Regions from separate parts of the Homo sapiens genome. Here region 2 is linked to region 1. A link means that fine-mapping ties the variant in region 1 to the expression of a gene that starts in the linked region. Tissue or cell type: blood mononuclear cells. Region 1 holds a variant in brackets; the other region holds the start of a gene. All regions are shown on one strand. Distances are between the middles of the regions. Region 1 has its middle 34 kb from the start of MAGEE1. Region 2 holds the start of MAGEE1 (MAGE family member E1).

Region 1 (8,351 bases):
GCTGTTCACGATACTACTAGACACAGAGTATGCCCTTGAGAAACATTCTCCTAAGGTTTATGTTTTGATCAACTCCCGCTTTGCAGCTAATGGGCTAATTATTTGGTCAGGACTTTGGCAAAATCAGGGCTTTAAAAACAGGGCCAAGACATTGGGGGTAGAGAGATGGGAATAAATTTCACCATTGGCTCCCACTCTTCCCATATTTGTGTACCATACCTTGACTCACAACAGACAAGACACAGAGGAGGTGGTATAAAGTGCAAAAAGCCAATAAACTAACAAAACCACCAAAGCAGGTAAATATCTTGAAGGACAGGGTGTTCCTAGAACTTTGATATGAACCCTTCAATGCTTCTACCAGTGGGCACAAGAGACATCAGGGCATTTGGATATGATGGGGTTTAAAAATGGATTAAGAGGAGTGGCTACAGCAAAGAGACATTCACATAAAGCTACCAAGAACTGTACTACACTCGAATAATCTGGACACTAGGCCTACCTTATGGAAAGATAAATTTAAATAGAAGGGTCAATCAAAACTTGGAAAACAATTTCATTGGTTCTCTCTCTGCAAGTGGCAGGAACCATTGAATATGCCTTAGCAATTATGTATACTTCTACAGGCTTTTTATTGGATTACCAATACAAAACACCAACCTCTGCTGATGTTATTGGGTGGTTAACAAAACAGCTTTTATATTCTTTGGGAATAACACAAGTTACACAGTAAAAACAAAGCTTCCACTTCACTGTAAAGCAAGTGCAAATGTAGGCATTACAAAATAACATTGCTGGCCAGGCATGGTGGCTCATGCCTGTAATCCTAGCACTTTGGGAGGCTGAGAACAGAGGATATCTTGAACTAAGGGGTTCAAGACCATCCTGGGCAGCAGGGCAAAACCTTGCCTCTACAAAAATAAACCAGCCAGGCATGGTGGTGTGTACCTGTAGTGCAAGCTATTCCAGTGGTTGAGGTTGGAGGATTGCTTGAGTATGGGAGGCAGAGATTGCAGTGGGCCATGATGGTGCTACTGTACTCTAGTCTAGGTGACAGAGTAAGACAGTATCTCAAAGAAAACAATGCTTAACTTTTTGGCCTACCCTATCTTCCTGGAAACAGTTCACACAGAAAGACATGGGCTTTTATTTATTTAAATGGGTTACACAGAAAGACAATGGGTTTTTTTTTTTTAAAGAGACACAGTTTCTCTCTGTTGCCCAGGCTGGAGTGCAGTTACATTACCACAGATCAGAGTAACCTTGAACTCCAGGGCTCAGGCAATCCTCCCACTTCAGCCTCCTGAGTAGCTGAAATTACAGGTGCATGTTATGTCACCATGCCCAGCTAATTTTTAATACTTTTATAGAGATTAGGTATCACTATGTTGCTCCGGCTTGTCTCAAACTCCTGACATTCCAGCAATCCTCCCACCTTGGTCTCCCAAAGCAGTGGGATTACAGGTATGAGTTACCGTGCTCAGCCTGACATGGGTTTTAAAACAATGGCAATTGAAACAACCTGGAGTGTGGAGCCAAGGTGGCCAAATAGGAACAGCTCCAGTCTACAGCTCCCAGCATGAGCGATGCAGAAGACAGGTGATTTCTGCATTTCCAACTGAGGTACCGGGTTCATCTCACTGGGGAGTGTCGGAAAGTGGGTACAGGACAGTGGGTGCAGTGCACTGAGCATGAGCCGAAGCAGGGCGAGTTATCACCTTACCCGGGAAGCACAAGGGGTCAGGAAATTCCCTTTCCTAGTCAAAGAAAGGGGTGAGAGATGGCACCTGGAAAATCGGGTCACTCCCACCCTAATACTGTGCTTTTCCAATGGTCTTAGCAAATGGCACACCAGGAGATTATATCCCGTGCATGGCTGGGAGGGTCCTACACCCACAGAACCTCAATCATTGCTAGCACAGCAGTCTGAGATCAAACTGGAAGGCGGCAGCAAGGCTGGGGGAGGGGCACCTGCCATTGCAAGGCTTCAATAGGTAAACAAAATAGCTGAGAAGCTCGAACTGGGTGGAGCACACTGCAGCTCAAGGAGGCTTGCCTGCCTCTGTAGACTCCACCTCTGGGGGTAGGGCATAGCCAAATAAAAGGCAGCAGAAACCTCTGCAGACTTAAATGTCCCTGTCTGACAGCAGTGAAGAGAGTAGTGGTTCTCCCAGGACACAGCTGGAGATCTGAGAACGGACAGACTGCCTCTTCAAGTGGGTCCCTGACCCCTGAATAGCCTAACTGGGAGGCATCCCCCAGTAGGGGCAGACTGACACCTCACACGGCTAGGTACTCCTCTGAGACAAAACTTCCAGAGGAATGATCAGGCAGGAACATTTGCTGTTCACCAATATCAGCTGTTCTGCAGCCTCCGCTGGTGATACCCAGGCAAACAGGGTCTAGAGTGGACCTCTGGCAAACTCCAACACACCTGCAGCTGAGGGTTCTGACTGTTAGAAGAAAAACTAACAAACAGAAAGGACATCCACACCAAAACCCCATCTGTACGTCACCATCATCAAAGACCAAAGGTAGATAAAACCACAAAGATGGGGAAAAAACAGAGCACAAAAACTGGAAACTCTAAAAATCGGAACACCTCTCCTCCTCCAAAGGAATGCAGCTCCTCACCAGCAATGGAACAAAGCTGGATGGAGAATGACTGTGACGAGTTGAGAGAAGAAAGCTTCAGATGATCAGACTACTCCAAGCTAAAGGAGGAAGTACAAATCCATGGCAAAGAAGTTAAAAACCTTGAAAAAAAATTAGACGAATGGCTAACTAGAATAACCAATGCAGAGACGTCCTTAAGGGACCTGATGGAGCTGAAAACCATGGCATGAGAACTACATAATGCATGCACAAGCCTCAGTAGATGATTTGATCAACTGGAAGAAAGGGTATCAGTGATGGAAGATGAAATGAATGAAATAAAGTGAGAAGAGTACTTTAGAGAAAAAAGAATAAAAAGAAATGAACAAAGCCTCCAAGAAATATGGGACTACGTGAAAAGACCAAATCTACATCTGACTGGTGTACCTGAAAGTGACGGGGAGAAAGGAACCAACTTGGAAAACACTCTGCAGGATATTACCCAGGAGAACTTCCTCAATCTAACAAGGCAGGCCAACATTCAGATTCAGGAAATACAGAGAATGCCACAAAGATATTCCTCGAGAGGAGCAACTCTGAGACACATAATTGTCAGATTCACCAAAGTTGAAATGAAGGAAAAAATGTTAAGGGCAGCCAGAGAGAAAAGTCGGGTTACCCACAAAGGGAAGTCCATGAGACTAACAGTGGATCTCTCGGCAGAAACTCTACAAGCCAGAAGAGAGTGGGGGCCAATATTCAACATTCTTAAAGAAAAGAATTTTCAACCCAGAATTTCATATCCAGCCAAACTAAGCTTCATAAGTGAAGGAGAAATCAAATACTTTACAGACAAGCAAATGCTGAGAGATTTTGTCACCACCAGGCCTGCCCTAAAAGAGCTCTTGAAGGAAGCACTAAACATGGAAAGGAACAACCGATACCAGAGCAGAAGTGAAGGAAATAGAGACACAAAAACCCTTCAAAAAATCAATGAATCCAGGAGATGGTTTTTTGAAAAGATCAACAACATTGATAGATCACTAGCAAGACTAATAAAGAAGAAAAGAGAGAAGAATCAAATAGACACAATAAAAAATGATAAGGGGGATATCACCAACAATCCCACAGAAATACAAACTACCATCAGAGAATACTATAAACACCTCTATGCAAATAAACTAGAAAATCCACAAGAAATGGATAAATTCCTCGACACACACTCTCCCAAGACTAAACCAGGAAGAAGTTGAATCTCTGAATACAACAATAACAGGCTCTGAAATTGAGGGAATAGTTAATAGCTTACCACCCAAAAACAGTCCAGGACCAGATGGATTCACAGCCGAATTCTACCAGAGGTACAAGGAGGAGCTGGTACCATTCCTTCTGAAATTATTACCATCAATAGAAAAAGAGGGAATCCTCCCTAACTCATTTTATGAG[G/T]CCAGCATCATCCTGATACCAAAGCCTGGAAGAGACACAACAAAAAAAGAGAATTTTAGACCAATATCCCTGATGAACATTGATGCAAAAATCCTCAATAAAATACTGGCAAACCGAATCCAGCAGCACATCAAAAAGCTTATCCACCATGATCAAGTGGGTTTCATCCCTGGGATGCAAGGCTGGTTCAACATACGCAAATCAATAAATGTAATCCAGCATATAAACAGAACCAATGACAAAACCACATAATTATTTCAATAGATGCAGAAAATGCCTTTGAGAAAATTCAACAACCCTTCGTGCTAAAAACTCTCAATAAATAAGGTATTGATGGGATGTATCTCAAAATAATAAGAGCTATCTATGACAAACCCACAGCCAATATCGTACTGAATGGACAAAAACTGGAAGCATTCCCTTTGAAAACTGGCACAAGACAGGGATGCCCTCTCTCACCACTCCTATTCAACATAGTGTTGGATGTTCTGGCCAGGGCAGTCAGGCAGGAGAAGGAAATAAAATGTATTCAATTAGGAAAAGAGGAAGTCAAATTGTCCCTGTTTGCAGATGACATGATTGTATATCTAGCAAACTCCATCGTCTCAACCCAAAGTCTCCTTAAGCTGATAGGCAACTTCAGCAAAGTCTCAGGATACAAAATCAATGTGCAAAAATCACAAGCATTCTTATACACCAATAACAGACAGAGAGCCAAATCATGAGTGAACTCCCATTCACAATTGCTTCAAAGAGAATAAAATACCTAAGAATCCAACTTACAAGGGCTGTGAAGGACCTCTTCAAGGAGAACTACGAACCACTGCTCAATGAAATCAAAGAGGATACAAACAAATGGAAGACCATTCCATGCTCTTGGGTAAGAAGAAATCAATATCATGAAAATGGCCATACTGATCAAGGTAATTTGTAGATTCAGTGCCATCCCCATCAAGCTACCAATTACTTTCTTCACAGAATTGGAAAAAACTAAAGTTCATATGGAACCATAAAAGAGCCCGCATTGCCAAGTCAATCCTAAGCCAAAAGAACAAAGCTGGAGGCATCACGCTACCTGACTTCAAGCTATACTACAGGGCTGCAGTAACCAAAACAACATGGTACTGGAACCAAAACAGAGATATAGACCAATGGAACAGGAAAGAGCCCTCAGAAATAATGCTGCATATCTACAACCATCTGACTTTGACAAACCTGACAAAAACAAGCAATGGGGAAAGGATTCCCTATTTAATAAATGGTGCTGGGAAAACTGGCTAGCCATATGTAGAAAGCTGAAACTGGATCCCTTCCTTACACCTTATAAAAAATGAATTCAAGACGGATTAAAGACTTAAATGTCAGACCTAAAACCATAAAAACCCTAGAAGAAAACCTAAGCAATACCATTCAGGACATAGGCATGGGAAAGGACTTCATGTCTAAAACACCAAAAGCAATGGCAACAAAAGCCAAAATTGATAAGTGGGATCTAATCAAACTAAAGAGCTTCTGCACAGCAAAAGCAACTACCATCAGAGTGAACAGGCAACCTACAGAATGGGAGAAAATTTTTGCAATCTCCTCATCTGAGAAAGGGCTAATATCCAGAATCTACAATGAACTGAAACAAATTTACAAGAAAGAAACAACCCTATCAAAAAGTGGGCAAAGGATATGAACAGACACTTCTCAAAAGAAGACATTTATGCAGCCAAAGGACACATGAAAAACTGCTCATCATCACTGGCCGTCAGACAAATGCAAATCAAAACCACAGTGAGATACCATCTCACACCAGTTAGAAAGGTGGTCATTAAAAAGTCAGGAAACAACAGGTGCTGGAGAGGATGTGGAGAAATAGGAACACTTTTACACTGCTGGTGAGACTGTAAACTAGTTCAACCATTGTTGAAGTCAGTGTGGCGATTCCTCAGGGATCTAGAACTTGAAATACCATTTGACCCAGCCATCCCATTACTGGGTATATACCCAAAGATTATAAAACATGCTGCTATAAAGACACATGCACACCTATGTTTATTGCAGCACCATTCACAATAGCAAAGACTTGGAATGAATCCAAATATCCAACAATGGCAGACTGGATTAAGAAAATGTGGCACATATACACCATGGAATACTATGCAGCCATAAAAAATGATGAGTTCATGTCCTTTGTAGTGACATGGATGAAACTGGAAACCATCATTTTCAGCAAACTATCGTAAGGACAGAAAACCAAACACCGCATGTTCTCACTCATATGTGGGAACTGAACAATGAGGACGCATGGACACAGGAAGGGGAATATCACACACCGGGGCCTGTTGTGAGGTAGGAGGAGAGGGAGGGATAGCATTAGGAGACATACCTAATGTTAAATGACGAGTTAATGGGTGCAGCACACCAACATGGCACAAGTATACATATGTAACTTACCTGCATATTGTGCACCTGTACCCTAGAACCTAAAGCATAATAAAAAAAAGGAAAAAAGAAAATCAGAATTATATCAAGTATCCTCAGACCACAGTAGAATGAAACTGGAAATTAACTTCAAAAGGAACCCTCAAAGCTATACAAATATACAGAAATCAAACAATCTGCCTTTTAATGATATTTTGATCAACAATAAAATCAAAATGGAAATTTAAGAATTCTCTGAAATGCACAAGAACAGTTACACAACTTATCAAAATCTCCAGAATACAGCAAAAGCAATGTTAAGAGAAAAGTTCATTGGATTAAATGCCTATATCAAATAGTCTCAAAGAGTACAAATAGACAATCTAAGCTCACACCTCAAGGAACTAGAGAAACAAGAAAAACCAAACTGAAACCCAGCAGAAGAAAATAAATAACAAAGATCAGGACTACATGAAATTGAAACAAAAAAGATATTACCATAGATAAACGAAAGAAAGAGGGGGTTCCTTCAAAAGATAAACAAAATTGATACGCCATTAGTGAGATTAACCAAGAAAAGAAGAGAGGAGATCCAAATAAGCTCCATTAGAAATAAAATGGAAGATATTACAAATGATACCACAGAAATAGAAAAAATCACCCAAAGCTACTAGGAACACATTTATGCACACAAACTAGAAAACCTAAAAAAGATGAATAAATTCCTGGAAATATGCAACCCTACTTGATTAAGTCAGGCAGAAATAAAATCTCTGAACAGACCAATAACAAGTAGCAGGACTGAAACAGTAATAAAAAAAATTGTAAACAACAAAATCCAAGACCAGATGGATTTACAGCTGAGTTCTATCAGACATTCAAAGAAGAATTGGTACCAGTCTTATAGAAACTATTCCAAAAGATAGAGAAAGAAGGAATCCTATCTATATTATTCTACGAAGTCAGTGTCACCCTAATATCAAAACCAGGAAAGGCCATAAAAAATAAAATGACAGACCACTATCCATGAGAAACATCAATGCAGAAGTCCTCAACAAAATACCAGCTCACCAAATCCAACAGCATATCAAAAAGATAATACATCATGATCAAGTGGGTCTAATACCAGGGATGCAGGGATGGTTTAGCATACTCATGTCAATAAATGTGATACACCACATAAACAAAATTAAAAACAAAAATAACATTATTATGTCTATAGATACTGAAAAAGCATTTGACAAAATCCAGCATCCATTTATGATTAAAACTCTCAGAAAAATCGGCATAAAAGGGACATATCTCAATGTAATAAAAGCCATCTATGACAAACCCATAGCCAATATTATATCGAACAGAGAAATGTTGGAAGCATTCCCCCTGAGAACTGGAACAATGCAAGTATGCCCACTCTCACCACTTCTATTCAACGTAGTACTGGAAGTCCTAGCCAGAATAATCAAACAAGAGAAAGAAATGAAGGACATCCAAATAAATACAGAAGTCAAAATATCGCTGCTCACTGATGATATGATCATATAACTAGAAAACCCTAAAGAGACATTTAAAAAGCTCCTAGAACTGATAAATAAAAATTTCAGGATAAAAAATCAATGTACACAAGTCTGCTATACGCCACCAACGACCAAGCTGTGAATCAAAACAAGAACTCAACCGCTTTACAACAGTTGCAAAAAAAAAAAAAAAAAGTACTTAGAAATATACCTAATCAAGGAGGTGAAAGACCTCTACAAAGAAAACTACAAAACATGGTTGAAAGAAATTATAAATGACACACACTAATGAAAACACATTCCATGCTCATGGATGAGTAGAGTCAATATTGTGAAAATGACCATACTGTCAAAAACAATCTACAAATTCAATACAACTCTCACCTA
Region 2 (8,351 bases), 33 kb before region 1:
ATAGCTATATGCTATATTCTTTTCTAGATAATGCAACAAGATGGAAAGATTTCCAAAACATTTTATAGAGCTATCAAAACTCATACCAAAATACAACAGAGACAGCAAGTGGTCAATCACATTTACCCAATCAGACAATATATTAAAACAGTTGAAACATTTCCAGACACCACACCAGAACTAAATATGAAAAGACATAAATATAACTGGAACACAAATACCAAATACAATATGTACCCACCCCCACCCCCCAATACATGAGAACTGAGGCTCAAAGGCCCCTCCTTGCAAGGCCCCTCTGACTGCCATGCATTCCTCTACCTGAAGTTGTGAACAAAGATTTGCCTGTGCCCAACATCAGCTCTATTGGCCTCATCTTCCATTGCCTCCCTGTACTGCTGTGGCCAGTCCTGTGGTTCCTTTCTGTGGATTCTGGCCACATATCGCAAGGCTTTCATCTTAGAGGTTTCCAAACGGGCTCTAGGACCCCATACAAACTCATATTGCACTGGATCACTGTCAGGAACCCGTAAACTGTCTATATAGCGCTGACTCAAGTATCTGCAGGTAATCACATGCTTTCTCCCAGCTTGAACCCCTAAGCCCCGCAGAAAGGCCCAGACTGCAGACTCCCTGGCATGGTTGCCCATAATAAAGATGAAGCTTAGGACCTGCATCAAAAAGTTGTTGCCAGGCCTGTTTGGACTGTCTACGATCTCCTCAGTTTCTTCCATCTCCCTTCGGTTGTACAGAGTATAGGAGTGATTCCTGGGATCAAGTACCACTAGTTCTGTCCCATAGACATGGTTCAGGGTGCGGGCAGCACGATTCAGGAGGTCAGGGAACACTTTGCTGCACTCTCGGCCAATGTAGTACAGAATTCCTTTCTTTGGTATAGGCAGCTTAGTTGAATCCATAAGCAGAAATAACTGCACCAGCTTCCTTGCCTTGCTCTCCAATCTTGACTCAGGCCATGAATGTGGGGCATATTTTGAGGAATAGCTGGAAACCTCTGAATCAGGGGATGGTACCTCTGCAGCAGCTTCCTCAAAAAAGGGCCTCCTAAAGTGAGGGAGAGCCTGCCAACCCTCAGCAAAGGCTCTGGCAGCATCTTCTTCCAGAGCTTCGTTGTATTTCTCTGGCCAATCCATAGGATCTTTGTTATATATTTTCGCCATGAACTTCAGAATTTTCATCTTGGTGGTTTCTAGGTGGGATCTTGGGCCCCAGAAAAACTCATACTCCACTGGTTTACAGTCAGTTACTGGCCTGTAGTCTAAGTAACGCTGCCATACAAACTCCACAGACAGAAGTCTCTTTGGGTTCCCAAAAATGGAAAGCCTCCTTTCCCGCTGCACCCCCATCCTCCAGAGCATTTCCCAAATCTCAGCCTCCTTGGCTTGGTTGCCATTCAGGAATATTTGGCCTAGAATCATCATCAGGAGGCCCATCTTTGGCCCATTTGGGCTCTCTTCTAACCCTTCAAAGGGCACAGGTCCCAGTTTGTTTAACAGAATGTAGGTGTGTGCCTCAGGGTCAAGTTCTCTCAATTCAAACCTAAAAATGCACTCCAGGTGGGCTGCTGCTCGCCTGAGTATCTCAGGAAACTGGTTGCGATATTCTTTAACAATATATTCCCGCATTTCAGACTCCCGGATAGGGTACTTGCTCTGATCCTTCACCAGCAGGAACTGCAACAGCTCAGCTACGTTCTGTTCCATAGGGTCTTGGGGCTTCAGGGTAATTGCAACCCGGGAAGTATTGAGGCCCATAATACTAATGGAGTTGGGGCTCTCACAGTCTCTCAGGACCTCGAATTCTATAGGGCCTTCTGCACCCTTAGGACCCTCAGAATCTGAGTCCACGGAGGCCTTGGTTACCCTAGGGCTTGGCAAAACAAGGGAACACTTGGAGGGGTTCCGGTCCACAGAAGCACTAGAGCTAAACAATGTGCTCGGGCCCTCACCAGGGTTAGGCAGCACGGAGCTTCCCGGTCCGTCAGGGGCGGTGGGCTGCACTAAGGTGCTTGCGCCCTCACCAGGAGTGGGCGGCACGGAGGTGTCCGATCCATCAGAGGCGGTGGGCGGCACAGAGGTGCTCAGTCCCTCACCGGGGATTGGCAGTACGGAAGTGCTTGGTCCCTCACCGGGAGTGGGCGGCACGGAGGTGCTCAACTCCTCAGTGGCGGTGGGCGGCACGGAGGTGCTCAGTCCCCCACCAGGGGTGGGCGGCACGGAGGTGCTCGATCCCTCACCAGCAGTGGGCTGCACGGAGGTGCTCAGGCCCTCGGTGGCGGTGGGGGGCACGGAGGTGCTTGATCCCTTACCGCGGGTGGGCACCAAGGAGATGCTTTGTCCGTCAGAGGCGGCGGGCAGCACGGAGGTGCTCGGTCCCTCACCAGGAGTGGCCGGCACGGAGGTGCTCGGTCCCTCATCACGGGTGGGTGGCACGGGGGTGCTTAGGCCCTCAGTGGCGGTGGGCGGCACGGAGGTGCTCGGTCCCTCATCAGGAGTGGCCTGCACGGAGGTGCTCAGGCCCTCAGTGGCGGCGAGCGGCACGGAGGTGCCTGGTCCCTCACCAGGTGTAGGCAGCACGGAGGTGCTTGGTCCCTCATCAGGGGTGGGCACCACGGAGGTGCTTGGTCCCTCATAGGCTGTGGGCGGCACGGAGGTGCTCGTTCCCTCACCAGGGGTGGGCGGCAGGGAGGTGCTCGGTACCTCAGAGGCGGTGGGCGGCACGGAGGTGCTAGGTTCCTCAGAGGAAGTGGGCGGCCTGGAGGTGTTCCGGCCCTCAGAGGCGGCAAGCGTCACAGAGGTGCACAGCCCCTTAGAGATGGTGGGAGGCCCGGAGGTGCTTAGGCCCTCACTGGGGGTGGGCAGCACGGAGGTGCCAGGTCCCTCAGAGATGGTGGGCTGCCCGGAGGCGCTTGAGGCCTCAGAGATGGTGGGCGGCACAAAGGTGCTTGGGCCCTCAGCGGAGGTGGGCAGAACGGAGGTGCTTGGGCCCTCAGAGGCGCAGAGGCCCTGGAGGATCTGGGAATCGCTGGGACCCTGGGGGACGTCTGAGCCTGGCACATCAGCGGGGAGACCGGGGGCATTAGGGGCCTGCATTTCGCCCCAGCTGCTGTTGTGCGCAGTAGCCTTTGCAACGCGGCGGCGGCGGCGGCGCGAATTCTGGCTTACCAGAGACATGGTCCTGCCCACCGGCGTTGGCGTGTAGGAGCAGACACCGACAGGCCCGCGATCTGGCAGAGAGGACGGGAGGTGTGTAGGTGCCTCGGCACAAAACTGCCGCTAGCGGTAATGATGTTGCTGCTGCTGCCAGAACCAAAGTTCCAAGCAACTGCTGAAGCTGAAATTAGAGGTGGTGAAAAAGGCAGGCACTGGCCAGCAGTGAATGCTAGTCTCACTGTACTCTGCTTCTCACACCCCGCCCTCTGCCGCAGTCCGCGCAGGCGCAGACTGGCTCTGCGGCAAGGCGAAATCGCCCCGCCCCGCCCCTCCCCTGGGCCTGAGAAAGTGGATGCGGTGGTTCTGCACCAAAGGAGAGCACTAGCAGAAGGGAAACTTTGGTAGGGTGAAGCAAGGAGCTTAGAGTAGATGCATTAGGGAGTAAAAATGGAAATAATAATAAATACTTCTCAGATTTAGGGTACGATTGGAGGGCTTCTACACAGAGTGCCAGGCACTTAATAGATTCTCAAAATTGGTAAATATCATTGAGATTTGCAGTTTTCCCGAAGCTGTTTCAAAGAAAATGTGCATTGTCTCTGGAAGGGTAGAACCCCCATCCCTGACCATGTCTCTTCTATCACTTTCTCCATTTATGTGTCTAACTCCTCCCCTAATGTTGTGAGCTAGAAAGAACTCTTTCCTAGAGGGTCTGAATGCCTGAAATTTAGTACCAATTAGGGAGCTTCGAACACGCTTGAAAAGCCCAACATTCCCAGCCCAAACTTTCCCAGTCACCCAGGCTTTAGTGGGAAAGCCACTAAAACTCTTGAAAATTTGTTTAATTCTTTCACTCCACAATCACCTGCTCATTTAATAGAGCTTTTGTGAAAGTCAGTTGAGATACCGAGTGTTAAGGGATGTGTTACCTGCTCTGTTTTGCTCTATTACTCTAGCACTTTTGAGCAGATCCAACCCTGATCCCTTTATTCATTCACTCAACAAACACTGGTCATCTATCCCGAAGTTACAGTTAATCTCTTTGTCATCAAGGAGCACCCGATGTAAAAATGGGAGTCAGAGAAAAAGTAAAGCTAAATTTTCTAGAAGTTTGTAAAGAATGCAGGGGATGGCAGGGTCAGTTCTACCTGTAGATGCAGAAAAGGCTTCATAAAAGAGGAGATGTTTAAAAAGATGAGTGGGTAGATATTTACCAAAAGGACAAGGATGAGAAAATCATTCCAACTGAGAGTAGCACGGCAGCAGTGAGTAAGAAAGAAAACACTGAAGAGGACGGGCAGGCTGTTTTTAGAAGTAGGGGAGAGAGAGAGAGGAAGAGAGATAGAGGGAAAACACTAACTTTCTGACACTCACACAACCACTACAATTCAGCTTACCACTATTGACCCTTTATTGATATGTTTATATCTTGCTGCAAACATTTATTATATGTTGTCTTTCTTTATATCTTCTCAAAAATCTGGGAGTATACTTTTGTCTTTTTTTCTTTTTTTTTATACTTTAAGTTTTGGGGTACATGTGCAGAATGTGCAGATTTGTTACCTAGGTATACACGTGCCATGGTGGTTTGCTGCACCCATCAACCCATCATCTACATTAGGTATTTCTCCTAATGCTATCCCTCCCCTATCTCCCCACCTCTTGACAGGCCCTGGTGTGTGATGTTCCCCTCCCTGTGTCCATGTGTTGTAATTGTTCAATTCCCACTTATGAGTGAGAACGTGTGGTGTTTGGTTTCCTGTTCTTGTGTTAATTTTCTGAGAATGATGGTTTCCAGCTTCATCCATGCCCCTGCAAAGGACATGAACTCATCCTTTTTTATTGCATAGTATTCCATGGTGTATATGTGCCATGTTTTCTTTATCCAGTCTGTCATTGATGGGCATTTGGGTTGGTTCCAATACTTTTTTTTAATACGTCTTTAGGAAAGGGAAAATAACTGGCTACAGTCACAATGTGTCACCATCTCTGTCTCCAATTGGAGAAGCAATCCCTTATATGAATAACCAGTTTCGGTTCTGTGAAGTCCAATGCAGTTTTTATGCCTGGGGCCTATTCAGAATGGGAGGCACAAAAAAACCTAAGATATTTCTAAGCTTTAGCAACAGATATTCCTAACCTAGGGTACAGTGATTTTTAAAGACCCTGAAGTTGTTCAAACCTATAAACTAAAAATTTTTACCTCTAGAAATATATTCTAAAGAAATAATAAGATATATGTGCAAATATTTAGCTAAAATAACTTTTATTATATAATTTGTTCTAGTATAACAGAGCTGAAAACTAAATGAATGTTAAATAACTAAAGAGTATTTGAAGAAATTATGGTACTAAAAATGGAATACCAGTAAGTCATTATAATGATATCAAAGAATTCCATTTCTAATAATGTATAGTTGATTGCAGCAGCCCTGCGGAAAAAAAACCCCAGAAATTTAGGTAAAGAAACCCTTTTATGGCAACAAAGGCTACCAATATAGCATCAGAAACCTATAAAGGCAATGAGGACTTCAAGAGTAATGATCTCAGAAAAAAGGGAAGTGCAAAGAGGTGAGTCTTACATTGTATACAAGTTTGTCACTTAAGGAATTTAATGATTTGTAAGCTGATAATTTGGAATTCTGAACTTACTGAAATAGTACATCAAAAATGAAGGCAAAATAAATACATGTTCAGAAATCAGTGCTGAGTAAATTGATCACCAGTACACCCACACTGAGGAAATACTGAAAGGTTCTCCTCTGAAACTGAAGAGATGCAAGAAGCGAACAGTAATAGAAAGGATAAATATGTGGGTAAACAGACATATTGACAATGTAAAACAATAATAATAATATGTTTTGTGTAATTTATATGTAGAATTAAAATATAGGAAACAAGTGAGTGCAAGAGATTTGGGGACTGATCAAGAAAAATATATACTACCACACGTTTTCAGTAACACACAATGAGTTTTTGTTGTTTGTCTGTTTTAGAATTTCAACTTTTATTTTAGATTCTGGGGATACATACACAGGTTTGTTATATGGGTATATTGCATGATGCTGAGGTTTGGAAAACAGATGATCTCATCACCCAGGTAGTGAGCATAATACTCAACAGTTTTTCAACCCATGACCCCCTTTCTTCTTCCCCCTTCTAATAGTCCTCCAGTGTCTGTTTTTGCCACCTTTATGTTGATGAGTACCCAATCTTTAGCTCCAACTTATAAATGAGAACATATGGTATTTGGTTTTCTGTTTCTGTGTAAATTCGCTTAGGATAATGGCCTTCAGCTGCATCCATGTTGCTGCAAAGGACATTATTTCATTAGTTTTTATGGCTGTGTTGTATTCCATGGTATATATGTACCACATTTTCTTTAGCAAATATCAGTGATAGACACCTAAGTTGACTCCATGTCATTGCTCTTGTTAATAAGGCTGCAAACAACTATGAGTGTATGTGTCTTTTTGGTTGAATGATTTCTTTTCTTCTGGATATATGCCCGATAATGTGATTACTGAATTGAATGGTAGTTGTGTTTTATGTTCTTTGAGAAATCTCCAAACTGCTTTCTATAGTGGTTGAACTATATATAGTGTTTATTATTACTAATTTACATTCCCACCAACAGTGTATAAGCATACGAGTTTCATTTGGTCAACCCTTTGACAGGTTTGCAAGGGCATGGGGTTAATCAAAGTCTGAGATCTTCCAGAGGCTGGTGGGAGGTCACAACCTAGAAAATGAGAGGACAAGCTAACTGGAGAGAGGGAGGGGAATCAAAGAGATGGCTTATACATGTAGCGATGTCTCTCAGCAGCAAGACAGGGAGTTGCTGGGTCAGAGATCTCTGAAGGGCAGCAGTAGGTTAGGGTTTTTATCTCCTGGAGTTTATCCTATCTATAGCTAACAGATGATTGTAGTTTCACAGGGACATGCAAAGAAGGCAGCCTCTAAATGGCTAACAATCTACTTATTGGTCTATATTTAAAACAATTGATGTGTAAAAAATTGAGTTTGGTACTGGCAGAATCAATATATAGAGACTATCTTTGGCTCATGCATATAACAGTCCATCCCCTGGCCCAATGTTGTCTTATAATTAAAATTGTATGTTATTTTGCAGTGCCTAAGTTTCTTGCCAGAAATAAAGGAGACAGAATCCTATAAGGGTACAAACAAGGATTTCAAAACCCTTTCATAGCCAATCTGCCCACGTAATGGAGGAAAGCCAGGGGAATCGATTAGAAAAAGGAGCAGATTTTAATTTGTTCAATTGTTCAGTCAGTAGAGTGACATTATAACCCCTTTGCTACATGTTCCTGTCTATCCATAATGCTAGAATCAGATTGGCAGAAGCAAGTCCAACATGCAGTTAAATTTGTCATTATATGTGTTTCTGTGACTTAAGATATCTGCAGGTTTAGGCAAATGAATGTTCCTCCTTATTTGGATTGGTGTGCCTTGCTTGAGTTTCCGGGTGATTGCCAGTAGTAAATAGCATCAGAATGTTTGCATGGGTCTAGAGTAAGCTTCACAGTATCTCTTGGCAGTTTTTAAAAAGTTATTAATTTATACATGCACCAAATTTGATTCTGAACTGTGGAGTACTCACATATGTGATCCTCAAAGGTAGGGCAAATTATTTCAAAAATAACCATCAATCATATTATAAATTTGGCCTATTTATTTCCCTGTTTATGATGATGTTGTTCTAATTTTAGTGGGAGGCCACCTGTTCCATCATTTTTATTCCAGGGAAACTTTTCTAGGGAGTCCATTTGTATAGCTCGAATAAGTTCAAGGGTGACCTCTTTAGAGGTGGCAATGTGATGTCACCAATAAGTTTCTTCCCAGGTTAGCTTTGATATCAGGCTTCTCATTATTGTTTCTATCTCCTGTATGGTGGGATGTATACTGAAAGATTGAATGTACAAATGGACAATGGTTGGACCATATATAAAAAGTAGAACAGTGACCCGCAACCTTCAACAACTTGCCTAGGAAACCAACCCACTTAACTACAGTAAGCAGCCCAGAGCATTAGCCTGCTATAAGTCAGACTTGTAGGATGTCAAATTTTTATCTTTAGTAACAATTCAAGGAAATAAACAATAATTTCTATAACAATCAGCCCAAAATGGCCAGGACTTGATTAATAACTGACTACCTTCT

What was found. PIP is the estimated chance that this variant, and not a neighbour inherited with it, causes the effect.
Region 2: it holds the start of MAGEE1, and the variant in region 1 is fine-mapped to the expression of MAGEE1 in blood mononuclear cells (TOPMed, PIP above 0.99).

Annotation. Positions count from the first base shown.
Region 1 is chrX:76,389,768-76,398,118 of GRCh38, reverse strand. No RefSeq gene overlaps it. Among named protein-coding and RNA genes, the nearest start is that of MAGEE1, 34 kb to the left of the region's middle. The variant G/T (reference allele first, on the strand shown) is at 4,042.
Region 2 is chrX:76,422,771-76,431,121 of GRCh38, reverse strand. It overlaps MAGEE1 (MAGE family member E1), which reads right to left and starts at 3,412. Exons shown (of 1, transcript NM_020932.3): 1 at 1-3,412. The coding sequence starts at 3,191. The coding sequence ends at 318. RefSeq lists enhancers at 2,555-2,684, 3,155-3,364.